Homo sapiens: one gene and its partners. The protein of the gene in region 2 purifies or fractionates together with the protein of the main gene of each other region. This does not show direct contact. Each region holds a gene or a part of one and is shown on either strand. Other genes may lie near its edges.

Region 1 (3,500 bases), on a different chromosome or scaffold from region 2:
TCCTGTTTCCTAAAGTTTTCGTATTCTCAATTTCATCAGCAGGCGGTGGTCATCCAGAGGCTTTTGAGTCATCAACTCCTTTACATCAAGCAGAGGATTCTCAGGTCCGCCAGTACTTCCCAGAGACCTGGCTCTGGGATCTGTTTCCTATTGGGTAAGTGATGACTCAAAAGTACAGTAAAGGGCCAGGTGCATGGCTCACGCCTGTAATCCCAACACTTTGGGAGGCTTAGGAGGGAGGATCACTTGAGACCAGGAGTTCAAGACCAGCCTGGGCAACATAATGAGCTTCTGTCTCTACAAAAGAAATTAAAAAAATAGCCAGATGGTAGTTGTGTCCTACTTGGAAGGCTGAGGTGGAAGGATCACTTGAGTCTGGGAGGTGGAGGCTGCAGTGAAGCAAGATCACATTGCTTCACTCCTGCTTGGGTGACAGAGCAAAACCCTTCTCAAAATCAACAACGACAACGACAACAACAAACCCAGAAAAAAAACAGTAAGATTCTGCAATGTAGAGCCTGTAGAAAACTCAGAATCAGACGCATTCCTAATGGATCTAAATCTTAAGCAAAGAAAGCTTGATGGGGTGTGGGAATTTATTTATTTTCCGGAATTCTTTTTTTCTTTTTATTTTTAAGACAGAGTCTTGCTCTGTCACCCAGGCTGGAGTGCAGTGGCATGATTTTGGCTCACTGTAGGCCTCAACCTCCTAGGTTCAAGCAATTCTTGTGCCTCAGCCTCCCAAGTAGCTGGGACTATAGGCACATGCCACCACACCTGGCTAAGTTTTGTATTTTTAGTAGAGGCAGGGTTTTGCTATGTTGGCCAGGCTAGTCTTGAACTCCTGGCCTCAAGTGATCCACCCGCCTTGGCCTCCCAAAGTGTTGGGATTACAGGTGTGAGCCACTGCGCCCGGCCTACCTGAATTCTTCATGCATTCATATACAACCACTCAAAACAAATCCACACAATTCCACACTCACACATTGCAGGCCCTGTGTTCTCACTACAGAACCACACACATTTAAAGGTATATATTGACATCAATTTTTGCTCACTGCTTGCATATCCATTTTGACAAGCCCTGAGACCACACATCCTCAGACTCAGAGGGCACCAGCCTCTCTGTCAGATGTGCTTGCACAGAGATGCCCACCCCGACTCCCCACCATAGTCCCCCTCCTCCGTATGAGTGCAGCCTCACTCACACTGAGACTCACCTGTTCAGTTGCCTCTTTACTTCTCCCCATACAATAACAATAACAATTTTACTTCTGCAGATGAATTTGTAGCTTTTTTTTTTTGGACAGGGTCTTGCCCTGTCACCCAGGCTGGAGTGCAGTGGTGCAATCATAGCTCACTGCAGCCTCAAACTCCTGGGCTCAAGCAATCCTCCTGCCTCAGCCTCCTAAGTAGCTGGGACTATAGGCATGCACCACCACACCTGGCTAATTTTTAAATTTTTGGTAGAAATAGGGTCTTGCTATGTTTCCCAGGCTGGCCTCAAACTGCTGGGCTGAAGCTATCTGCTCACCTCAGCCTCTCAAAGAGCTGGGATTACAAGTGTAAGCCAGCACACCCCACCGAATTTGTGGCTTAATTCACAAATGTTCTCCTTGCCCCACGCTACCTCTGCCTCATGTTGGTCCTTGTGTTTTCACAGTAACTCGGGGAAGGAGGCGGTCCACGTCACAGTTCCTGACGCCATCACCGAGTGGAAGGCGATGAGTTTCTGCACTTCCCAGTCAAGAGGCTTCGGGCTTTCACCCACTGTTGGACTAACTGCTTTCAAGCCGTTCTTTGTTGACCTGACTCTCCCTTACTCAGTAGTCCGTGGGGAATCCTTTCGTCTTACTGCCACCATCTTCAATTACCTAAAGGATTGCATCAGGGTGAGAGCTGGGGATACAGGAATCAGGTGTCAGCCCTGGAATCACACCTCCCCCATAAGTTTGTCTCTAAATTGGAAGCATCCCAATTTTCCCTGGGAAAGAGAGGAGATGTCGGCGTCTCAGCCCCCAGGTTTCCCCAGGCCTCTATGCACTACCTCCTTTGTTTGTACCCTTTGTCTCTTAAACATCCTCCGTAGGTTCAGACTGACCTGGCTAAATCGCATGAGTACCAGCTAGAATCATGGGCAGATTCTCAGACCTCCAGTTGTCTCTGTGCTGATGACGCAAAAACCCACCACTGGAACATCACAGCTGTCAAATTGGGTAAGAGAGGGAAGTGGTAGACGGGCGAGGAAAGCCAGCAGCAGAAGACCAGTGACTGAGCACTCAGTCTTTTCCTCTGCCACATCTGCTTTGCTTCCTCCTCCATTTTCCACTATTTTTCTCCCTCCTAAGGCTGTTATAAGTCAATACACAAACACTCTTTGATAGGTGACCAAACAAATTTGTTCAAACCGGAATATTTTGAGTGTGAAAGGGAGAGCTTTTAATATTTATAGCTGGACAAGGAATACATGGTCATGTAACTAATCAAGGACTTACTATAAGAGTCCCTGGGCCAGGCACTATTCTAACTGCTTTACATATATTAACTCATTAAATTGATTGACTAATTAATTTTTATTTTATTTATTTATTTTTGAGAGGAAGTCTCGCTCTGTTGCGCAGGCTGGAGTGCAGTGGTGCAATCTGTGCTTACTGCAACCTCCACCTCCTGGGTTCAAGTGATTCTCCTGCCAAGCCTCCCAAGTAGCTAGGATTACAGTCGCGTGCCACCCTACCCGGCTAATTTTTGTACTTTTAGTAGAGGTGGGGTTTTGCCATGTTGGCCAGGCTGGTCTCAAACTCCTGACCTCAGGTGACCTGCCTGCCTCGGCCTCCCAAAGTGCTGGGATTACAGGCGTGAGCCGCTGCGCCTGGCCTTTTATTTTTTTTTAGAGAGACAAGATCTTACTCTGTCACCTAAGCTGGAGTACAGTGGTGTGGTCATTGCTCACTGCAGCCTCAACCTCCCAGGCTCAAGCGATCCTCTCACCTAGGCCTCCGGAGTAGCTGGGACTATAGGCTCATGCCACCACCATGCCTGGCTAATTCAGTTGGCAGAGAAGCGGTCTTGCTCTGTTGCCCAGGCTGTTCTCAAACTCCTGGGTTCAAGTGATTCTCCCGCCTCACCCTTCCAAAGTACTGGGATTACAAGAATGAGTCACTGCACCTTTAACTTGTTTAATCCTCACCCCCAACCCTATGGGATGTCAGTCACTCATAGATTAAATCCTTGCAACTCAAAGTTTGATTTTCATATGTATGAGTTATCTCATGTTGCTTGACAAATTATTGTAAAACTTAAGTGTCATAAAAGGACAAACATTATCAAACAGATTCTATGGGTCATTAATCTGGGTGCAGCTTAGCTGGGTACCTCTGGCTCAAGGTATCTCATGAGGTTGCAATCAAGCTGTCAGTCAGGACTCTGGTTTCATCTGAAGACTCGACTAGGAGAGGATTGATTTTTCAAGCTCATCCCAAAGTCTCTGATCCTTACAGGCT
Region 2 (4,006 bases):
AGGAGAATGGCGTGAATCCGGGAGGCGGAGCTTGCAGTGAGCCGAGATGGTGCCACTGCACTCCACCATGGGCGACAGAGCAAGACTCTGTCTCAAAAAAAAAAAAAAATACAGAAAACTAGCCAAGCATTATGGCAGGTGCCTGTAATCCCAGCTACTCGGGAGGCTGAGGCAGGGAGAACAGCTTGAACCCGGGAGGTGGAGGTTGCAATGAGCCGAGATCACGCCACTGCACTCCAGCCTGGGCGAAAGAGCGAGACTCCGTCTCAAAATAAATAAATAAATAAAAATAAGTAAATAAATAAAATTTTAAAAATAAAAATGCAAGCTCCTAGAATCGCCTGAACCTGGGAGGCAGAGGTTGCAGTGAGCCAAGATGGGGCCACTGCACTCCAGCCTGGGCGACATAGCAAGAGTCGGTCTCAAAAAAAAAAAAGAAAAAAAGTAAGCTCCTAGAAGGCAAGTCCTATGCCTGGTCTGACTTGTGAGATGCCGTGAGGTAGCCTAAACAGACAAGTAAGCTTTCAACATTAATGTTGCTAATGTCAGTGCATAACAAAACATTTAACAGAAAATGGAAAATTAAGCCGTTGCTAGTTTGCTTATGATCTATAGTTTTCAATTTATCAAAAATACATTTTCTATTTCTAGTATGATTTATTATTATTATTTTTTTTTATATTTAGAGATGGGGATCTGTGTTGGCCAGGTTGGTCTCGAACTCTTGGCCTCACCACCTTGGTCTCCTGAAGTGCTAGGATTACAGGCGTGAGCCACCACGCCCGGCCTGGTGTGATTTTTTTAAAACAAACAGTCTTGCATCATTCGTACAACTAAATTATACTTATAATTGGGGTGCTCACAGATTTATGCATACTAGTGTAGTAAGACATGCTATTATGCTAATTAGTTTTCCCTTCAGTTAAGAGCCTGTGATCCCATCTGATTTCCCATAACATGATATGATAATGAGGAGAATAAAGGCTCTGGAGCAATAAGCACCACCAATAATTTTACTTTACTCAAATATGCATTCCAAAACAGTATATAATTTACAGCATGGCCCTGGTTAGCTATTACAATGCATCTGTTTTGGGGACTTTTACAATATATGGTAGGATACAAAGCATACGTTTCCAAATCTCCTTTCGTTCTGTTTTGCTGAAAGGGAGCACACATGGGATCCCTTAACAACACAATTCACTAACTAATTTTCTTCAGGCAGTAATTCAAATTCCCACTTCCTCCTAAATACCTCTGGACAGCAACTCCTGGCAATCCATCTGTCTCTTTCGCCACAGCTTCTTTTCATAACTAACGGGTCAAGTTCCTTTCCCCATTTCGACACTGCACTGTACTGCGGCCCTGCCACCATAGCCCACTGCTGAATCCAATATAACATATTGGATTTCACTGTCCTTCATTGTTTCCAGTTTAACTGCCATTTTACCACCATGCACACGAGAAATGCATTCCCACAGGCATCTTATGAATTTCCAAAGCAGCTACTCTTTTGTGGATTTACAAAACATGTGCTTCTCTGAATTCCCTTCATCACCACAGAAACGGCTTTGGGAAGCCGAGATTTTTTTTTAAAGTACCCTACCTATTATAAAAAGAAACTGATTCTAAAACATTATTTTCCTAGCTAATTTAATCCTAAGAGTCTTCCCACAAGGCAGTGGAGGAACGTCAGGGCAAAAATGTTAAATACCGCTTTTGGTCTTCCCAATTAACATGAAACATTTTCAGCACACAAAGATTATTATATCAAATGTCTTTTCTTCTCAGACTACACCATAAAGGCTACCCAGCGCACTGTAAAATAAACAGCTGGCTATGGCTTATGCACAACGCCCTAAATCTTCCGAAGACACCCCACCCCCACCCCTCAGCTTTGGGCTCACAGACATATAATCCCTCGGCAAACCCCAAACCTGCCAATGAAGTGCACTATTTCTCTGCCACAAAGGCCGGCCCGCGCCTCGTGCACGCCGGCCTCCGCACACATGTGCCTGGCTGACAACTGCGGAGCGGCCCTTCCAGGATCAAAGCCGTTGGCCTGGACCGAAAGCCGCACTCTTCCCAGCCCACTGCCTTCTCCCGCGGCCGCTCTCCCCGGTAACAGGCGGCGGAACCGAAGCGCTCCGGCCACAAGCCGGCTACCCCCTCCGCCCGGCGCGCCCTGTGCAGCCGCACTCAAACCCGCTTCCCCTCAGCCCCAACGTCCTTTCTCCTTCCCCCTTTTTTCGCCTCAGGAAATTCCATCGGAACTTCATTCCGCCCGAGCGGGGCGGCCCTGGCACACCCTCCTCCGGCGGCCGCGCCCCTCGCGCCTCCACCCGAAGGGGCCGGAGACCCGGCGACCCCGGCCCGCCCAGCCTGCCGCCTCACCTCCTCCTCGCTCTCGCTGCGGAAACACAGGCATGCGGCCCGCTTCTTGTAGCCGTCGCCGTCGTAGGTGCGGGTCTGGTTCGACTTGAGCTTCATCATCCTCCGGGCCCGGGTGGGGGTGCGGTGCGGGTCGCAGGAGTCGAGGGGTGGGGAGCCCGCTCTGGACGGCCGCGTGCGCGCGCGCCCCCGGCTCGGCCAAGGGAAGCAGGGAGGGGGAGCTTCTCCGCTACACGGCTCCGCCGCTGGCCCGCCGCGGCCGCCTCATTCCCCCAGGCCCAGGTCCCGCGCCGCCGCTGCCACCGTCACGGCTGCCGTCTCCGCTGCCGCCAGGGCCGCCGCCCCCTCTGCCGCCGCCACCCCCGACGACGACCGCGCCGCCATCTTGGGCGCGATGCGTCAGCGGCGTAAGGCTGCACCGGCCTGCGGGACGGCCGCGCGCTCGCAGCGCAGGCCGCGTTCGCGAATCGCGCCCTCCCAGTTCGCGCGGTGGAAACCAGCATCTGAAAGGAGAGGGACGCGCGACTCCAGGCGACCGCTACGCCGGCAGCGTAGGCGTAGAACTGGTGGGGTGCGCGGAGGAAGCCGGGGGAGATAAGAACAGCGGCGCAGGACGCCTAGCGGCCGGAGCGGAGACCGAGCGGTCCAGCCGCGCAAGTCTGCGGATGGGGAAGCGGGGACTTGGCCAAGGTCACGCCGCGTCTCCGCGGCCGAGGATGAACCAAGGTCACGCCACCCGCCCCTGGGCCCTGCCGGTCGGTCTCGAAGGGGTTGAGGGGGAAGGTTTGTTGGAAAAAGGAGGATGTAGTTAAAGGCAACGGAAGCTGCAGCCTGAGACATCTGGGATTTGGAACTGCAAGGAAACGGCGCATGGGAGGCGTGTGCACTTTGCGTTGATAGCCTGAACCTCAGGATGTCTTAGGGGCTGGTGCATGTCGCCCATTACAAAGAACAAATATTTATTCTGCAATCTTTTATTGATGCTAAAGGTAATTGCTTCCTCTTATGGTAAACAAGAGGGCCAGAAAGGAACACGCGCGCGTGCGTGCGTGTGTACACACATAATGTAAATCATAAAACATCATCGTTTCTGGCAATAAATGAGGAGTGTGTGTTGTGGATGTCAAACAGATTCTCCAGGAAAAGATATACAGACAGAAGCTCTCCAGAAAGGAAAACTGGTGTATGACCTGTGAATGTTCTCAGCAACCCAGAACAAACCAAGTACCATGCAGATGCCCTAAACGTACCAAAAATCCTGTGCAGTATCTGTCTGTGAGTTGTTTAATACCCTTTTTTGTTTTTTAAATTTTTTTATTTAATTTTTTAAAATTTTTTTATTTAACATTTTGTTGCCCGGGCTGGTCCGGAATTCCTGGCCTCGAAGCTATCCACCCTCGGCCTCCCAAAGCACTGGGATTACTGGTGTGAGCCACAGCAGCCGGCTAATTCCCCTTTTTGAATTTGCTTGTATTTAGCATAGTCAAAAAGATCTGGATTTGAAAGCAAATACACCTTGGTTGTAACCTCAATTACATTTTTTTTAATGCTCATACCACCCGATTACATCATATTTTAACTTCCGCAAAATAGAGACCTACTTGGCCCTGGCACA
Region 3 (3,500 bases), on a different chromosome or scaffold from region 2:
GCATTGCCGATGGGAGCGGGAGAAACATTTTGGACAGAGCCAGCCTGGTGTGGAAGAGAAAAGAGTTCCCGACCTGGGAGTCAGCTACTGGGGTCCCATCCCACCCTAAGCCATTGGTTTGGGTGTGATGACCTCCGTGCCCTCTTCCACCCTGACACATGCAGAGTCAGCCCACAGCAGCAGGTAGTGGGACCACCATGTCATGGAGCCACCCCCACGGGGCCAGGGAGTAGAGGCGCCGACTCGCCCACGTTTCCCTGGGGACTGTCTCCCAGCAGAGCCCGGTTTGCAGTGTCCTATGCTAATGGTTGCACTTCAGCTCAGGATAGAAGCTTCCGTTTCCACACCTGGTGCAACAAGAGCAACCACATGCATTTTTTAATCACACTGCATTTGCAAATTTTTTTCCCCACACACACAATGACCTGGGCTAGGGAGGCCTTCCTAAGAATTATACCACAGAGAACTGCACACCAGAGCCATCGAAAGAACTGCCCCAGGTCCCACAGCTCCATGAGTGGCGCTGGCTGCGCTTGCACCCAAGTCTTCTGACTCCGAGTTGAACCCTGCATCTATTGTCTAGGAAACAGGGAAACCTTGCTTGTCTCGCTGGGACATTATGAGAAAAGAATCTATAAAAATACTTAAGACCTTTGCAAATTCAAAGTGCTGGGTCCATGCTGAATAATTGATGGGCTCAGGCTGCTTCAAGCTGACGCACAGTCCTCCTGCAGGAAGGCTGGGAGCGCGGAAACCTTCCTTTTCATTTAGCCCGGTGAAAGAGGCTGCTGAGAAAATTGCCAAGAAATACTGCTTCCCTGTTGGTCAGAAAGAGGCCCTGGCTCCTGGGAGCCACAGATCTAATTTATGGGCTCCCTGCAAGGCGGGGAGAAAGCCCAGGGCCACTGCAGGGAGAGGGGCTCTTGGGACGCCCAGTCGCTGGTGTGTCCCTTCCAAGGCTGCGGGGCTCTGGGAAAGGGCGGCCCTGGCAGGCAGGAAGAGGTGCCTGAGAATCTGACAGTTTGGAGGAGATGGGGAGGGGGAAAGTAGCCATGGGAAAAAAAGAGAAGGATGTGGTTTTCCTCCCGGGAAACGCTCGACAAGGCAGGGATGCCCAGACGGGCTAAGGCAGCCTGCTGCCGCCCCGCCAACCGCCACATGAGACCCAGGGCTTTTCTGGCCAAAGGCCATGGTGGCAGTGGGGATTAGAGGGCAGAAAGTAGACACAGAGTGGCCTTTAAAGCAATCTGCAGAGATGAAAGCAGAATGCAGCGCAGGCCGGTACCCTGGCTATACAAACAGGAAACACTTCCCAGCTGGCTGAAACTCAGACACCAGGGCACAGCTAAGGACACGGGGGATGTGTGCCCTCCCCTGTGGCTTCAGCCCACCAGAGTGGCTCCTAACCAGCTGGCATTGGCCTCAGCCTCCAAACAAGGCAGATCTAGGACTATTTGAATCCACAGGATAATTGGCTCCAAGTTGAAAATAGGCAGAATCAACAAACGCCAGCTCAAGGGGGGATTTGTCCAGATGATCTGATTTCTATTTTACTCTGCAGCACAAGTTCCAAAGCCCAGAGTTTCTAAAAGGCTTCGTAAGGCCTTTCACGGTGTTCCCTGTGCTTATGCCAACTGGGCACCTCCACGTTCGGGCTGGGGGTCCTGACCTCTCAGGGGCTAGAAGGGTCCTTAGGGTTTCCTGGTGTTTGGACGCAGTGGGGTCCCAGTGTGGCCTCAGCCTGGCTTGGACTGCCCAGTGCAGCCTGTAAGTGGCTGCAGGTGCAGCGCTGTGCCTGCACTGGGGTTTGGCAGGGACATATGGCCTGAGTGCCCGCAGGCAGGGCAGAAAATGGGATGTGTGACTTTGCTTCCCTGCCGTGTCAGCTTGCGCTGGAGGTACTTGGCTGCTGAAGCCTCCCGGGTTCACACCTCGCAGAGGAAAGGAATCAGGAGCAGGAGAAAGGGATGGAGCAAGTTAGAACAGGGCAGAGCCGGGTGTCGGGGGACGTGGGTTGGTTGACAGCCAGCCTGCCACTTACTAGTTCTATGACCTTGATCAACAGATTCAACCCTCCTAGGCCTAGGTTCCACATCCATGAAACAGGATTGTAATGGATCGTACCTCACAGTCTTGGAAGGACCAAATGAGATCAAGTTTACGTGAATTTTTAGTTACACCTCTAATACGACTGTCACCTCCTGCTCTTGACTGTGCTTGGCTGTCACTCTCCTTGGTCCATCGAATTGGGAAATGGCTCCTGCACTGCGAAAGTTAACTGAAGCGTGCAGAACAGCATTTTACTGTGAGCTCAGGACTCTACTGCATCAGCAACCTCGCCAGACTGCACGCTCCCTGAGGGCACGGCCTTCACCTTCTGCTTCCTTGGTAGGGTGGTGCATTTGGATCCTAAACTCCTTTGCAGAGATGGTGGGCTGTTCTGTGTGGTTTCATTATGCCAGCTACAACCTAGATGTATTCAAATCAGCAACGCCCACCCCTACCCCACTCGCAGCCACTGCCTCGAAGCAGAAAGCATCTGCTCCAGAGGCAGCAGGGACAGGCACTTCAGCGTCTTTATCTCTGGTCAGCATTGGGCATTTGATGATTAGCAAAGTAAATATTAGAAATGCGTTCTCATTGGTAAAGACAGAGGTATTCAAGATGTGTGGGTTGGCTAAATGAATTCAGAGACACTCTTGACTCAGGAAAGAGCAGGTAAAAGAATCCATGAGAGCTCCAGGGAGGTGTGGTCAGGGCAGCAGAGAGCAGATTGCTGGGCTTCACCGAGCCCACAGGACAGGCTGTATGGACTCCGCTGGACTTGTTTCAGGTAAATATTTGTCCAAAAATGTGTACGTCTGGCAGAATTTGCTCTGAGGCTGCTTTCATTCAAACTTGATAATGAGGCTGGCTTCACCTTCCTCCAAGTTTTCAGTGGCTGCTATCAAACAAATAAACAAAATAGCAGCAGCCACACAACCAAATTTGGGAAGTGCCTTTGTGACTGGAGGGACTTAGGTCAGTTCACGCCTGGCATGGGACTTCCAGGGCGAAGTGCGTGGAGCTGATCACAAGACTAGGGAGGTAGTGTCACTTTCAACTTGATGGTGGACAGTGGGGGCCAGGTCCCTAAGGCAAAGACCCTCATCCAGAACCTTCCTGGGTGGCCACCACCCTAAGCATGAGCCTGCTGACCTAGGGGCTGCTGTGCCCAGCCAGCTCGCAGAGGCTCCGCTGGCTTCCTGGAATGAGGAAACACTGCCCAGCCTTCGAGAAGGCCTGGAACTGTAGCCAGTGCACAAGTCACTGCCTAGGCTCTTTCCATACCTGCCACTGGACCTGGAAAATGGGGTCTGACCTGGGCCTGTCCCTCTAGGGATGCCCAAGGGACAAGCCCTGCGAGGGAGCCCTTGGGCATCTACTGCCAGCTTCCACCTTTGGATCAGGATGCCCTGGAGGGAACTTCCGGCCACACTGAAGAAATGGGGGCTTGGTCC
Region 4 (3,500 bases), on a different chromosome or scaffold from region 2:
ATGTGCCCTGTGCAGGCTCCACTCCTCCATGTGGCCTGCTTGACACATTCCTGCTAGAGGGACATGGGCGGCCTGCTCCTGCACTCTGCAGCAGGCCCTGGGCTGGCCCCTCCTTTGTAATGAGTCCCTCTGCAAACAAGGCCCCCTACAATCCTCACTTGAGTGTGCGTCTGTCCTGCTAGGAACCTGACCGAGACAATGTTCTCTCAAGATTCACCTGCACAGAAGGGAACTCCTGGTTTTCTCTACTTGCCTCTACCTCCACGAATGGCAACTCCCAGCACCCCCTGCTCAGGCCAAAAACAAGGGAAAGCACTCTCGCCCCATGCACTGTCACCCTTCCTCCTGCACCCCACCCACACGCAGGCCCACACACACAGGGAAGATGCTGTGGTCAGGTGTATTCGCAGCCCACCTTCTGCAGGCTGGTCCCTGTGGAGCTGGCCGCTGTTTACACCTTCCAAAGGCATTCTCAGGATCAAAGAAAAGACTAGATCTAAAGCATTCAGGGCAGTGCTTTTGACACTCTTGGACTGTCCCAAGTTCACTAAGGGTGAGGCCTTGGGCAGGCGCTAAGCAAACATCTGTTCTGTGCATGACTATGTGGCCTTGCCGAGAGGTTTTCTATCCAGTTCCTGTGCCGGGTTCACATGTGTACTAGAGAAAAAGGAGACCTGCAGAGAGTAAGAAAAAGAAAATAAGTGAAAAACAAGCAAGGCGCGGTGGCTCACGCCTGTAATCCCAGCACTGTGGGAGGCCAAGGCGGGCAGATCACCTGAGGTCAGGAGTTCGAGATCAGCCTGGCCAGCATGGTGAAACCCTGTCTCTACTAAAAATACAAAAATTAGCTGGGCGTGGTGGTGGGCGCCTGTACTCCCAGCTACTTGAGAGACTGAGAGAGGAGAATTGCTTGAACCCAGGAGGTGGAGGTTGCAGTGAGCCGGAGGTTGCAGTGATCCTAACGTTGCAGTGAGCTGAGATCACACCGCTGCACTCCAGCCTGGGAGAGTGAGACTCCATCTCAAAAAGAAAAAAAAAGAAAAAGAAATAAAAATACAAAAATTAGCTGGGGGTGGTGGCGCACGCCTATAATCCCAGCTGCTTGGGAGTCTGAGGCAGGAGAATCGCTTGAACCCAGGACGGGAGGGATGCAGTGAGCCGAGATCATGCCATTGCACTCCAGCCGGGGTGACAAGAGTGAGATTCCATCTCAAAAAAAAGAAAAGAAAGAAAAGAAAAAGAAAAGAAAGAAGGAAGGGAAGGAAGGAAGGAGAGAGAGAGAAATAAAGAAGGGAAGGAGGGAAGAAAGGAAAGAAAGGAAAGAAAGGAAAGAAAGAAAGAAAGAAAGAAAGAAAGAAAGAAAGAAAGAAAGAAAGAAGAAAGAAAAAGAAAGAAAGAAAGAGAAAGAAAGAAAGAAAAGAAAAGAAAGAAAAGAAGGAAAGAAAGAAAGAAGCGTCCCATGTTCTGGTGTTTGGTGTATTATCCACTGTGGTCATCAGCCTCCTGGAAGCCACTTTCCCCGCACGAACCATGTGGTCTAAGATTTGGCATCAATGAACTTTTGGATAAGGCTGGAGACTTGAGTGTGAATGGAAAGACTGAAATGAAAACCTCTGTGACCGCTCAGCGCCTTACAGTAGCCAGTCACCGCATATGGCTGCTTACATTTGAATTAAATAAAGACTTCAGTTCTTCAGTCTCATGAGCCACCTTTCAAGTGCTTGGCAGTCACGTGGGTGAGCGGCTACCACTGTGGACACAGCAGATGTGGGCCACCCCTGCAGCAACAGACAGAGCCGCTGGCAGTGCTGTCCTCCCACCGAGATGCTGAGAGGCAACAGCAGGCATCTCATGGTATTCGATGTCACTTTTTTTTGGAGACAGAGTCTCGCCCTGTCGCCCAGGCTGGAGTGCAATGGCGCGATCTCAGCTCACTGCAACCTCTGCCTCCCGGGTTCAAGCAATTCTCCTGCCTCAGCCTCATGAGTAGCTGGGATTACAGGCGTGCGCCACACGCCTGGCTAATTTTTTTTATCTTTAGTAGAGATGGGGTTTCACCATGCTGGCCGGGCTGGTCTTGAACTCCTGATCTCGTGATACGCCCACCTCAGGCTCCCAAAGTGCTGGGATTGCAGGCGTGAGCCACCACGCCTGGCCCGATGTCACTTTTCTATGCACGGGAGCTGCCATACACACTGTAACCACCCTGGTCCCCATCCACTCTGGGACCATCCTTCCACTGCTGGGTTATGAAGTTCATGCCTGGGATGCAGAGTCATCCAGCCCCTCCATTTTGCTGATAAATTATCTAGAAATACAACCCTGGGATACGACAAGTGCACGCATACATCATCTCAGGCTGTGCGACCTCCTCCCCGGCCCCCTGGAGAAACCCACGAATAAGCAGGGGCTTCTGAGCCAAGAAGACCAGGTCAAGTCAAGCCAGGAGCACTAAGCAAGACACCCAAGGAATCATCAGCTGTTCCTGGAGAGCCTGGGCAGGCTCAGTCTGCCCCTGGAGCTTTCAGCCTAGCCAGGCAAGGCAGATGAGATGCAGTGAACCCAGGCTTCTGGTTCTTCATCTACACTGCACGCCTTGCTCCTTGCAGGAACTGCCTCTCCACTCTCAGTTGTCCACATGCTTCTAGGTCAGGTGATGCACAGGCCCACCAGCCAGAGCCCCTGCTCAGGAACTGGTGCTCCCCAAACAGATCTAGGAGGAAAAATGGTGGGTAGAAGCCACAATGGCAGCCGGGGCAGGGGGTGGAGAGGCTGCCTCCTGACAACAGCAGCCTGCAGGAGACACACAGGTGATGATTCCACTTAGGGCGTGATCATAAGTGCTGTCAGCACTGCCAGTTTTCCTAGAAACTTCAGGCACTAAATCTGTTTTTCCATGTCTTCTGTAGCTATGTGACTTTCCTCTTCTGTAATGGCTTGCAATGACGTTTTTAAAGAAAACGCTCCACACCCTGAAAACACACATACAAGGAGCAACTACGAAAGCTTAAACTGGGCACAAGGTTGACAAAGCAGCGAACAGATATGACTCAGGTCCAGAGGGACTAGAAATGACTCAGGCACAAAGGTAAGTTTCTAAGAAACTGAGGAGGAATGTGCAATTCTTCTCCTTTTTAAACCTGACTTCAAGTAGGAAACTGAAGCGGTGGAAAGAAAACTGCCAGTGAGCCCTGAAGGAGGAGGCAGTGTGGGTCTGCAGGCACTGACACTCCACACCCAGGACAACTCACGCTGCAGCACCCAGACCACCCACGCGGCATGCCCACGTGCCTCCCAGGACACTCGGGAGCAGGAGCTCTGTCTGTTCATTCGCCAGATGCGTGGGACACCCTTTAGGGAAGTCACCAAGCAGCTTGTTTTCCCAGCAGCAACTATTAATATAAGTTAATTTGTTAACAAAGCTTCTGCTGTGTGTAACCTTTATTATTTATCTATTTGTTTTTTAGGTTTCATTTAGTGTAACCCAGCAAGTACTTTTA
Region 5 (3,500 bases), on a different chromosome or scaffold from region 2:
GGTCTCTGCACGGATATTTCTGAGACCCACAAAGGACGGTATGCTCAAGAATGTGAGGAACACCAGTACTGTCCATGGGAGTAGTACGGAACTGCACGCTAGGGAAGGAGAATGACCAGAACGCAAAAGGTTCAGCTTAGTGCTGCGGACACAGTTCCCAGATGCATCATCACCTCAGGCTACTAGAAATCATCATTCTGACACCACAATCCTCCAGCACAGGGTTTTCCAACTATAATGTAAATCATTGACTCAGACTGTAAAATTGTATTTTGATGAGATTATAAGTCAGTGTAAACTTTTCCTTATTTTTCAAGATGCTCTGTCAATAAAAATACTAGTGAGATGATATTTTAAACCACGTAATGTATAGCCATGTTTTAAATCAAGCTTGTCCAACCCGCAGCCTGCAGCCCGCATGCTCAGGATGGCTTGAAATGCAGCCCAACACAAATTCATACACTTTCTTAAAACATTGAGGGGTCCTTTATTTATTATTTTTAGCTCATCAGCTGTCCTTAGTGTTAGTGTATTTTATGCGTGGCCTAAGACAGTTGTTCTTCTTCCATTGTGGCACAGGGAAGCCAAAAGAATGGACATTCCTGATTTAAATAAAAACATTCAAGACCATGTTCTTACAATGCACCACACACCTGAACAGATTATTCGTGTCTTCTCTGGCCAGGTGTAAATACCTGGCTCCTGTGTCATCATGGGTGAGCTTCACTGCAGTCAGGAACAGCTCGGGAACAGATGTCACCTGAGTTAACAAGAAAAACACGACCAGTTAAACTTAGACAAAATGGCCTTTGAAATGGTTATGTTCGACACACTGAGAAAACTGGCTTTTCTGCCTGAAATTAGATGATGCCGGGAAGGCAGTATTTCAGAGCTGGAGAGAAGAGAACCATCTTGTCCAGGTCCCTTATCCTACAAACAAGGAAAGACAGACCTAAAAAAGGCAGATGAGAATATGTGTGTGTGTGTATAGAAAGAGAGAGAGAGCGAGCGAGCGAGCGAGCGCGAGAGCGCACGCGCTTACTACTGGCTAGGTATTTTAGATTTTTTTATTTTTTAAATTTTTTATTCTTTTTTTGGCTAGGCATTTTCTAATCATGTCACATATAATCCTGTGAGGGAGGTATTCTCATACTCATTTACAGACGAAAAAACCGAGGCTCAGGGTGATGAAATAAGCTGCCTAAATCACAGAGCCAGGATTCACCCTGGTGTCTGCCCTTCCCATGGTACCATGCTGCACCTAAGTAACAGAGCGCCCTTTCCAATGTCTGCTGAGTGTCTCCTGCTTTTGTGTGCTGTGCCTCAGTAACACAGCGCCCCTTCCAATGTCTGCTGAGTGTCTCCTGCTTTTGTGTGCTGCGCCTCAGTAACACAGCACCCCTTCCAACGTTGGCTGTGTGTCTGTTTCTGTGCATATCATCTCCTGTAGTGCGCAGAACGGGCCTGCAAGGAGGGGAAATGCTAGAGTGGGCTAGCCTGCGACAGCAGGGAGAGGCTCTAGGATCAGCCTTTGCTTCTCTTAGTTTAGGATGGGTTCTCGGTGGTAGCTAGAAGCACAAAGCTGTGGCTTCCAGAACAGCTGGAGGGGCCGGGAGGATAGAAATGCCCACAAGACAGACGAAAGACTCCCCACTCCTGGGGCGGCGTGGAAGGTCATCTCCTACTTTAGGTAAGCCTCCTGGTAAGTGACCATACTCCTCGGTATGAAAGAAACTGTCTTCTCTTCCAGTCATGCCAGCCGGCCCTCTCCCTCAATCACACACCACGTCCCTGTGATCACCACACCACTCACCACCCCCTCCTGCCAGGTGCCATGAGTCACCTGGCCAAGCGCACACAGTAAGTCGCTGGCCAAGGTCAGACCTCGGGTCTCCTCAGCCCAATCTAGGGAGCCTGCCACGCAACAGTCATGCATAAAGCAGACCACTATGACCTGCATCATCTACCGCCGCGAAATTACTTCTGTTTCCAAGCTCACTGTACTTTGTAACAGATGATCAATGCTTTTGAAGTCAGCAGATACAGTGAGATGTTTGCTTTCTAATAATATATAGCTTTAATAATAATAGCTTTCATGGTAGCTATTTCTCAAACAAGAATCATGACTTATCGTAAGTTTCTATGGCTGGACACAGTGGCTCACACCTATAATCCCAGCACTTTGGAAGGCCAAGGTGATATGGTTTGGCTGTGTCCCCACCCAAATCTCATCTTGAATTGTAGTTTCCATAATCCCCACATGTTGTGGGAGGGACCTGGTGGGAGGTAATTGAATCAAGAGGGCGGTTTCCTCCATGTTATTCTCGTGACAGTGAGCACGTTCTCATGAGAGCTGACGGTTTTATAAGGGGCTTCCCCCTTCACTTGATCCTCATTCTCTCCCCTGCCGCCCTGTGAAGAGATGCCTTCCACCACGATTGTGTTTCCTGAGGCCTCCCCAGCCATGCAGAACTGTGAGTCAATTAAACCTCTTCACTTTTTAGCTCATACTTTATAAATTACCCAGTCTTGGGTATTTCTTCATAGCAGTGTGAGACTAGACTAATACACAAGCAAAAGGATTGCTTGAACCCAGGAGTTTGAGACCAGTCTAGGCAACAAAGTTTCCATCTACACACACACACACACACACACACACACACACACACACACACACACACACAATTAGCCAGGCGTGGTGGCACCTTGTCCCAGCTACTTGGCAAGAGGATCGCTTGAGCCCAGGAGTTCGAGGCTGCAGTGAGCCAAGATCATACCACCACACTCCAGCCTGGGCGACAGGGTGAGTCCCAGTCTCAAAAGTAAATACGTTTCTATAAAATTTGAGAAATAAAGGAGGAGAATCTACCGCTGTGGGTGAGGCCCTTATTAACAGTAACCTGTACCATAAACCCAAGTGTCTTTGCCTGGCCTTTGCAGGATTTCACAAACGCTCCAAGTCTTTTCATGAGTCCCATGCCTGGACCTTGTCTGGCGCACCCTAGTCACTGCCCTGGCTCCCTTGCTGGAGCCCTGACCGAAGGCAGCCACGTTCTCACACCACCCTCTCCAGGAGCTCTTCCCTCTGCCCCCAGCAGCAGCAGCTCCCACTCCTCCTCCTGCCCTTGTCCTTGGCCCTCCGCGTGGCGTCCACCATGTGCCTCCGGTCACAGCCGCAGCAGTCTTTCTAGACAGTAAGCTGTTTGTCTTTCACGTTTGCTATAACATCAAGCATAGCACAAAGCCAACAGCTGGCCAAATACATGAAGCGTGTCATTTTCAGTTACCATGCTAAATAGAAACAATGCAAAAGGTTTAGGCAAAATAACAAAACAAAAACCAAATGAATCTATTTTAATACAGACCCAAGTAAGTACAGGTCCACAATTGCTTCTTTATCATTCTGAAACCCGAATGGCTCAGAAAACTGAAAGGTTCTGCGGACGTTTAGAGCAAGCTATTTGATGGCAAAACCTGACTAAACAGATCAGGGCAGTGAG
Region 6 (3,401 bases), on a different chromosome or scaffold from region 2:
ATCTCTTCTAAGGACAATTATTTGTTTGAATTTATGCTGAGTCCTGAGGAAGCTGTCACAACTACACCAAAGTGTACTTCCAAATTGGATAGAAATTATTTGTGATTTCATATGAGTAAAGGAAGGCTCTCTTTTTCTCTCAGTTCTAGGAAGAGTTCATATCATCACCTAAGTAACCCTAATCTGATCACTTCTTTCTACCTTTCTGGTGTTTGATATCTTTATCCCAAATCTCTAAAGCCCCAACCTTCTTGCCCATTAGCCACAACTCTCAGAAATGGACCTCATAGGGCAGGGGACACAGCCTCTTTGTTCTGATGATAAAAGCAGGTGTTTACCCAGCACTGGTTGGTGCTGTTGGCATAGACTCTGAAAGCTCTCAAGCTGTCTGGGCTCACGTCCCAGGTCTCTCCCCAGCCCCCCACCCCCACCTGGTGTGTTGCCTGAACTGGAGCCACTCAACTCCCTGTGCCTCTATTTCCTCACCTCTGAAATGGCAATGCCAAGAGCACTGTTTTAGGGGGCTATTCTGAGCATTATATATGCTCATAGATGGGCCTGGCACAAAGTAAGTGCTCAGTAAATGTCAGCTACTATTATTTCCTTTTTTTGTTTTTTGTTTTTTGTTTTTAGACAACGTTTCACTCTTGTCACCCAGGCTGTAGTGCAATGGTAGGATTTTGGCTCACTGTAACCTCTGCCTCCTGGGTTCAAGCAATTCTCCTGCCTCAGCCTCCTGAGTAGCTGGGACCACAGACGTGTGCCACCATGCCAGGCTATTTTTGTATTATTAGTAGAGACAGGGTTTCACCATGTTGGCCGGGCTGGTCTCGAACTCCTGACCTTAGGTGATCTGCCTGCCTCAGCCTCCCAAAGTGCTGGGATTACAAGAGTGAGCCACCAAGCCCTGCCTTCTATTATTTTCTAATACCCTGTGTTCATCTCCTCATCCTCCTTCCTCTTAATTATCCACTTTGCCATTTCTATTCCTGTCCATCAATGCTTCCCCCAGTGTCTTTTCTGATCACCTGTGCCCCCTCCTCTCCTATTGCTGACACACAGCCTGGGCCATTTTCCTTACCAAGACCTCCCCCACCCCACATCCTTGAAACATCTGCCTATCTCTTTCTTGCCTCCTTTTGAAAATCTTCAGATCCCATGTAGCACCTTGGGCATTTTTGTACTTAGTAGCCCATCTTTTGACACCCACTCTATGATAATTTAACACCAGCAGTTCACCAGACCTGAGGTTGGCTGCCTTGGGGCTGGCAGTGTGGTTTAGGAGAAAGAGCACTGGGCCGGGGGCACAGGGACCATCTCTGCACGGGCTCTGCCACCAGCTCCTCTGACCATAGCGCAGGTGGCCCTTCCTGGGTCTGCATCGTATGGTAAGGAGGAACTTTAGGGCTCCAAGGAACTCTAACAGCCCACAGTTTTGAATCCAGCACTTCCTGAGCCCCCAGCATGGGCTACGGTGTGTGCTGGGTGCTTTTCTCTGTTGATTCCACAAATTTCAATTGAGCCAATATTGGCTGTACCCTGTGCTAGGTGATGGAGCTGCAAGGGAGATCAGGACAGACTGTGACATCCTTCATAGAACAGACATAGTTAAATATTACAGACTTGTTTGGAGGTAGGTCTCAGTGCTCCAATGTTTGCAGATTTCAACCAGATATTTTGGGAACGTTTCACTGTCAACAGCTAGGACTGGCAGAACCACCAGGTGAGCCCAGGTCTGAGTGACTTTGAGAGTGGCTCACTCTCCAGGCAACCTCCCTGGACAGGGGTGAGTCTGATGCCTTCTCACGGGGGTATCAGCCTCCGATGGGTGGGGTGTGGAGGTGAGAGGTCATAGGTGCCTGGATAGGAAGTGACTCTGCCATCACTTCCTGTGTGACCTGAGGCCTGGGATGAGGATGGGGCAATTGATGGGGAAGCGGGGAGCACCTGTGCTGTGGGGTGGGTGGGATGTGGACATGTCTGTGTTTCTGCTGTGTCTCCTGTTCTTCCCCTGGGATTGGGACTATTTCCATCCTGCTGATCCCTTGCCACTCACACTGGGGGGGCTGCCTCTTGGGTTAGACCTTCCACCCCTGTGGTCTGTTATTCACTGACCGTTACTGTCGTTGTAATACTCCACGATGTCTTTCAGGGTCTCCATAAAGATGTCCTCCCTGGCCTTCTGAAGTTGGCTGTCCTGCTTCCAATCCTCCATTCCTTCCACCTGTCTCCAGAGTCCCATGGGCTGAGACTTCCTGTCTTTACTGTTGTATCTAAAGAACTGGAGGTCATTGAGTGAGCCAAGGGCCTGAAACGCGGGGACGTCTTCAACATGCTTGGACAGCCCAGTGTAGATATAGGTCAGAGAGTAACGACCTGCAAAAGAAAAGATTCTGATGGTTGAGGTCCATGCAAGGGTCCCACTGTGGGGCTGCATAGGGCTAGGAGGGGAGACCTGCCACTGGCCTTTTCTTCCCCAGCTCTTTCTCCTGCCATCAACTTCACACCACTGGAGGCTCACTCAAGTGAATATGCTCTACTTTCATGCCTGAGATGATATTTCAGAGACCATCCTGTGTCTTCACTACATTATTTCCTCTGCTTGACACATAGGAAGATAACATTACTCAGCCACCTCGAAGATATATTGGGACCATGTGACTGAGTTTTGTCAAAAGAGAATGTGAGCAGAAGTGATGTCTTTCTTCTTGTCCAAGACCCTACCAGCTGGCTTGTCCCTTTTGTTTCTCATCCCTAGAGGTGACGACTTTGAAGGCCACAGGATAATATGAAAGAGTCTCAATATGCAATTGGCCTGGATCCCTGAGTCACCCCATGGAGGAATGGAACCTTGCCCAGTGTGCATGGAATCTGACATGCGTTAGAAATTAACATTTCTAGGCTGGGCTCCGTGGCTCATGCCTGTAATCCCAGGACTTTGGGAGGCCAAGGCAGGCAGATTACTTGAGATCAGGAGTTGAAGACCAGCCTGGCCAACATGGTGAAACCCCATCTCTATTAAAAAATACAAAAATTAGCTGGGCATGGTGGTGCGGGCCTGTAATCCCAGTCATGCTGGAGGCTGAGGCAGGAAAATCACTTGAACCAGAGAGGCAGAGGTTGCAACAAGCCAAGATCATGCCACTGCACTCCAGCTTGGATGACAGAGTGAGACTCCGTCTCAAAAAAAACAAATTAACATTTCGTCCGGGCTCAGTGGCTCACGCCTGTAATCCCAGCACTTTAGGGGGCCGAGGCGGGTGGATCACGAGGTCAGGAGATCGAGACCATCCTGGCTAACATGGTGAAACCCCGTCTCTACTAAGAATTCAAAAAATTAGCCAAGCATGGTGGCGGGTGCCTGTAGTCCCAGCTACTCAGGAGGCTGAGGCAGGAGAATG
Region 7 (3,500 bases), on a different chromosome or scaffold from region 2:
ACTGGTCCCTACCCACCTTCCGTGGACTGGCGGAAAAAAGGAAATTTTGTCTCACCTGTGAAAAATCAGGTATGCCTGGCAATCTCCATCCTCTCCCTGCAAAACGGCCACACTCCCAGACAATACACCAGGAAGAACAACTCAAAAGGTCCACAAAACCACCACAAGCACATCCCTGCCTCTGTTTCCTCTCGGCATCTCTCCAGCCCTCTTCCTTTGAGGGGCCAGGGAGGTCAGCACTTCTCTAGGCTGCTCTGGAGGATGCAAAAGTTCCTCTTTATTGGGCTAAAGTTTACTCCCTTCCTTCCCCACGCCCCAGATTTTCCCATTGGTCCCAGGTCTCTCCTACAGAGCCATCCAAAACGTTATGTTCCCTGTGCCCATCTGGACACCAGAACCCCATGCATCTCCTCTTCCCGCCTCCATCTTCTCCGAGCCACCAGGGTCCAGCCCCTGCCCTGGCTGGCCGCCTCCCTCTGGTTAGTCCATGTGTCATGCATCAGCAAGCTTCTCATGGCAGGGGCTGGCCTCCGTGGCCCTTGCTGTGGGGCACAGAGGGCTTGGCAAGGTGAGAGGCCCTGCCTTCCTCCATGGGGGAGCAGTCTGGGGGCATCTCAGCACAGGCCCTGTCCCAGAGAGTCTGGACCCTGCCCCCGCTGTTCTCCCGGCCTGCTGCGGCCCCTCCCCTAGCAGGGAACCTGCCGTGGCCTTCTTCAGAAGGATGCCGACCTCTGGACTCTAGGAAATATGAGGTGAAGGTTTCCTTCCTGGAAACTCCTGGCTTTCCATCGAAATTCTCCATGAGAAATGTTTTTTCACTTTCCAAAAAGCCATCCATGCAGCACAGCTTTAAAGCCTCCCGGGCTTGCAGTGTTCCTGGAGCCTGCCAAGTGCTGGATGTTTAACTAGCATCAGGAGCCAAAGCAAACCTCCCCTTGCAGCAGGAGGTGGAGTAGAAGCCTGCCTTTGCCCCGTGACATTTTTAGACCCTCTGAGAACCACATGACAATTCAGAGCAACACGTAACCTAAACCTGCCCACCACTTGGACAGGTGGGAAAGAGAGGCCCACCAAGAATTTTCCAAGTCCTCCTGTTAACTGATCCTGGGCCATCAGGCAGGACGCAGCCGGCTGGGCTAAGGGAGCGGAATGAGGTGCTTCCTGACGCAGATGTGTGCCGTCTCTTACTGTGGCCGCTGTGTGGGGATAGAGACGGACAGCAGCCACAGCGTCCATCAGCTCAGCACCCTCCTTGAGAGTTTCTCACTTTACAGAGGGAGAGCCTGAGAGGGAGGGTGGTTTGCCTGAGGTCCAAGGTAAGTAAGTGACAAAGGGGACTCAAAACCAGGCCCCTGCCCCAAGTCGAGCACCCAAGGGTCAGCCGAGCTCCGCCTCCTTCAGCAGTGAGCTTAGTCTCCCCCGAAGTGGCCACGTCTGCCTCGTTGACTGTCTCATGGACCCTCTCACCAGGCCGTCCCTCCCTCCCCCAGCTGAGAGAGATATGTGAAGGGAAGAGATTGGGTGAGGCCAGTGTCAACCTAGGGTGATGACCTGGGAGGCAGGTAGGGGACTTAAGAGACATTTCAGAAGTAGAAGCTGGAAGACTGAACCAGCAAGGTGAGGAAACAGAGATGAACCTGAGAGAAATCCTTACAGCAGCCACCAGCATTGTGCCCACGGGGGTGACTGCCTGACCAGCAGAATCTGACTTAACCCTGCTAGCGCCCTGCAAGCAGGAACCCTCGCCATTCCCACTTTACAAGCAATGAAGCCAAGGCTTCGAGAGGGGAAGTGACTTGCCCAGGTCACCCACCTGGTGTGTGGCAGAGCTGGGATGTGAACCAGGCAGGCAGGCTGCAGCCCCCCACACCTAATCCTCATGTTATTCTGGAGGTGTTGTGAATAAGGGGGCTAGGCAGCGGCAATGAACTGTTAGAAGGTGGGGAAATGGGTGGATGGGGCGGGTCCCCCAGAGTCTGGGGTGTCAGGGGTGTCTGGGTGGGGTTGTCTGGCAGTTAGTTGGATGTCTGAGCCTAAGTGGAGGTCAGCACTGGGCTAGGGTTTGGGGAGCTGTTAGTTTAACAGGACTGGGCAGAAGAGACTGGAGGTGGAAAGGTGAGAGAAGGTTCTAAAAACAGAACTTTGGGGCATCCTTCTGCAGGGAACCAGTAGGGAAAAGAGGAGCCAGTGAAGATCGAGAAGGAAGAGAGCCAGAAGACTGCAGAATGGGGTGGGGGACTCCAGGCCCTGGCAGAATGGTGGGGATTGGCCACCAAGAGGTGGTGATTGGGAGTCCACAGGCACTGGTCAGAGGCCACCTGCTGCTCCTGCTCCTTTGCAAGCCTCTCAGGACTTGCGAGGCTCAGAATGAATGGATCTGGAACAGGGCTTGCGAGCCTCAGAATGAATGGATCTGGAACAGGGCCTGCGAGGCTCAGAATGAATGGATCTGGAACAGGGCTTGGTAAACTGCCAAGGCACCTGGGGACTCGGGAGCTCTGGCAGGGTCAGCAGAGGAAGGCAGAAGGCAGGGCTGTCTCACGGCGTCCCCATCACTGATGTCCTCTGCTCTCCCCTGGCCTTTCCAGGGTGCCTGCGGCAGTTGCTGGACTTTCTCCACCACTGGGGCCCTGGAGTCTGCGATCGCCATCGCAACCGGAAAGATGCTGTCCTTGGTAAGAAATCAGCCACAGGCGACCCCCTGCGGAGGACACCCCATCCTGATGTGGGCCAGGCCTGGGCCTTTGGTTTCCCTGGAGCATTGGCTAAGGGTGCTGTTTCAGGTGGACCCAGATGCCCCAGCCTTGTGGACATCTGGCATGAGAATCTCAATTGATGCTTTTCCCGGGAAGGATCTGAGTTTATTAAGGAACCGGCCCAAGGGCTCATTCCTAGATGGATCTGGGTGGTCCTTAGCTTGACAGCCTGGAGCCTTCCCGGCGGAGGGGTTCAGAAAGGCGGAGCCTGCCTGGTGGGTAGCCAACTAGGAGCTACACCCTTCCCAGCAGCCTCAGTTGTCTTCATGAGGGAAGAGCCGGGACCTATGCATCCATCCCCTCGCCCACAAGAGACGGATGATGCCCCTGAAGGAACTATCCTAGCCCCTGCCTCTGTGGAGAAAGGAGGGACAGTGCACAGCCGGCCTGGTGATGCCATGAGGACCCTGGGTTGTGGACAGGTGGGGGTAGGGTCTCTGGCTGGGCCTGTTTCCCCCATCCTATACACCGCTGTGGGACCCCACACTCTGCATCGTATGGGCACACCTACGGGGCAGGGGTTTGGACCCAACAGCCCTTGCCCCCTCTCACCTTCCCTGGCTGCCCCTGCTTACTGAGCCCCTCCCGACATGTGCCAGCTGCTGGGCTGGCACTGCAGGACATACAGCAACTGTCCCTGCCCTTGGGGAGTTTATAATTTGGTCACCTTGACACAGCACTGACGGGGCCTCAGATGTGGCTCAGCCAGGGAGGCTTAGCGCCTCACGCCAAAGCCTTGACGGC

What was found.
Region 1: the proteins of NUDT3 (region 2) and A2ML1 purify together in Homo sapiens (affinity purification with mass spectrometry; one large-scale study listed by BioGRID and IntAct). This does not show direct contact.
Region 3: the proteins of NUDT3 (region 2) and FAM167A purify together in Homo sapiens (co-immunoprecipitation; one large-scale study listed by IntAct). This does not show direct contact.
Region 4: the proteins of NUDT3 (region 2) and IMPA2 purify together in Homo sapiens (affinity purification with mass spectrometry; one large-scale study listed by BioGRID and IntAct). This does not show direct contact.
Region 5: the proteins of NUDT3 (region 2) and PITRM1 fractionate together in Homo sapiens (co-fractionation; one large-scale study listed by BioGRID). This does not show direct contact.
Region 6: the proteins of NUDT3 (region 2) and AZGP1 purify together in Homo sapiens (affinity purification with mass spectrometry; one large-scale study listed by BioGRID and IntAct). This does not show direct contact.
Region 7: the proteins of NUDT3 (region 2) and CTSH purify together in Homo sapiens (affinity purification with mass spectrometry; one large-scale study listed by BioGRID and IntAct). This does not show direct contact.

Annotation. Positions count from the first base shown.
Region 1 is NC_000012.12:8,850,121-8,853,620, forward strand, and holds part of A2ML1 (alpha-2-macroglobulin-like protein 1 isoform 1 precursor), read left to right. Parts: intron 1-39; coding exon 40-154; intron 155-1,663; coding exon 1,664-1,892; intron 1,893-2,089; coding exon 2,090-2,216; intron 2,217-3,500. UniProt on the Homo sapiens protein: Is able to inhibit all four classes of proteinases by a unique 'trapping' mechanism. This protein has a peptide stretch, called the 'bait region' which contains specific cleavage sites for different proteinases.
Region 2 is NC_000006.12:34,389,870-34,393,875, forward strand, and holds the start of NUDT3 (diphosphoinositol polyphosphate phosphohydrolase 1), read right to left. Parts: upstream 2,801-4,006; 5' UTR 2,494-2,800; coding exon 2,395-2,493; intron 1-2,394. UniProt on the Homo sapiens protein: Cleaves a beta-phosphate from the diphosphate groups in PP-InsP5 (diphosphoinositol pentakisphosphate) and [PP]2-InsP4 (bisdiphosphoinositol tetrakisphosphate), suggesting that it may play a role in signal transduction.
Region 3 is NC_000008.11:11,460,254-11,463,753, forward strand, and holds part of FAM167A (protein FAM167A), read right to left. Parts: intron 1-3,500.
Region 4 is NC_000018.10:12,005,507-12,009,006, reverse strand, and holds part of IMPA2 (inositol monophosphatase 2), read right to left. Parts: intron 670-3,500; exon of another isoform or gene 598-669; coding exon of another isoform or gene 416-597; intron 1-415. UniProt on the Homo sapiens protein: Phosphatase that can use myo-inositol monophosphates, myo-inositol 1,4-diphosphate, scyllo-inositol-1,4-diphosphate, glucose-1-phosphate, beta-glycerophosphate and 2'-AMP as substrates in vitro.
Region 5 is NC_000010.11:3,166,283-3,169,782, forward strand, and holds part of PITRM1 (presequence protease, mitochondrial isoform 2 precursor), read right to left. Parts: intron 761-3,500; coding exon 654-760; intron 99-653; coding exon 1-98. UniProt on the Homo sapiens protein: Metalloendopeptidase of the mitochondrial matrix that functions in peptide cleavage and degradation rather than in protein processing. Has an ATP-independent activity. Specifically cleaves peptides in the range of 5 to 65 residues.
Region 6 is NC_000007.14:99,969,631-99,973,031, forward strand, and holds part of AZGP1 (zinc-alpha-2-glycoprotein precursor), read right to left. Parts: intron 2,377-3,401; coding exon 2,116-2,376; intron 1-2,115. UniProt on the Homo sapiens protein: Stimulates lipid degradation in adipocytes and causes the extensive fat losses associated with some advanced cancers. May bind polyunsaturated fatty acids.
Region 7 is NC_000015.10:78,931,547-78,935,046, reverse strand, and holds part of CTSH (pro-cathepsin H isoform a preproprotein), read left to right. Parts: coding exon 1-69; intron 70-2,588; coding exon 2,589-2,675; intron 2,676-3,005; exon of another isoform or gene 3,006-3,450; coding exon of another isoform or gene 3,451-3,500. UniProt on the Homo sapiens protein: Important for the overall degradation of proteins in lysosomes.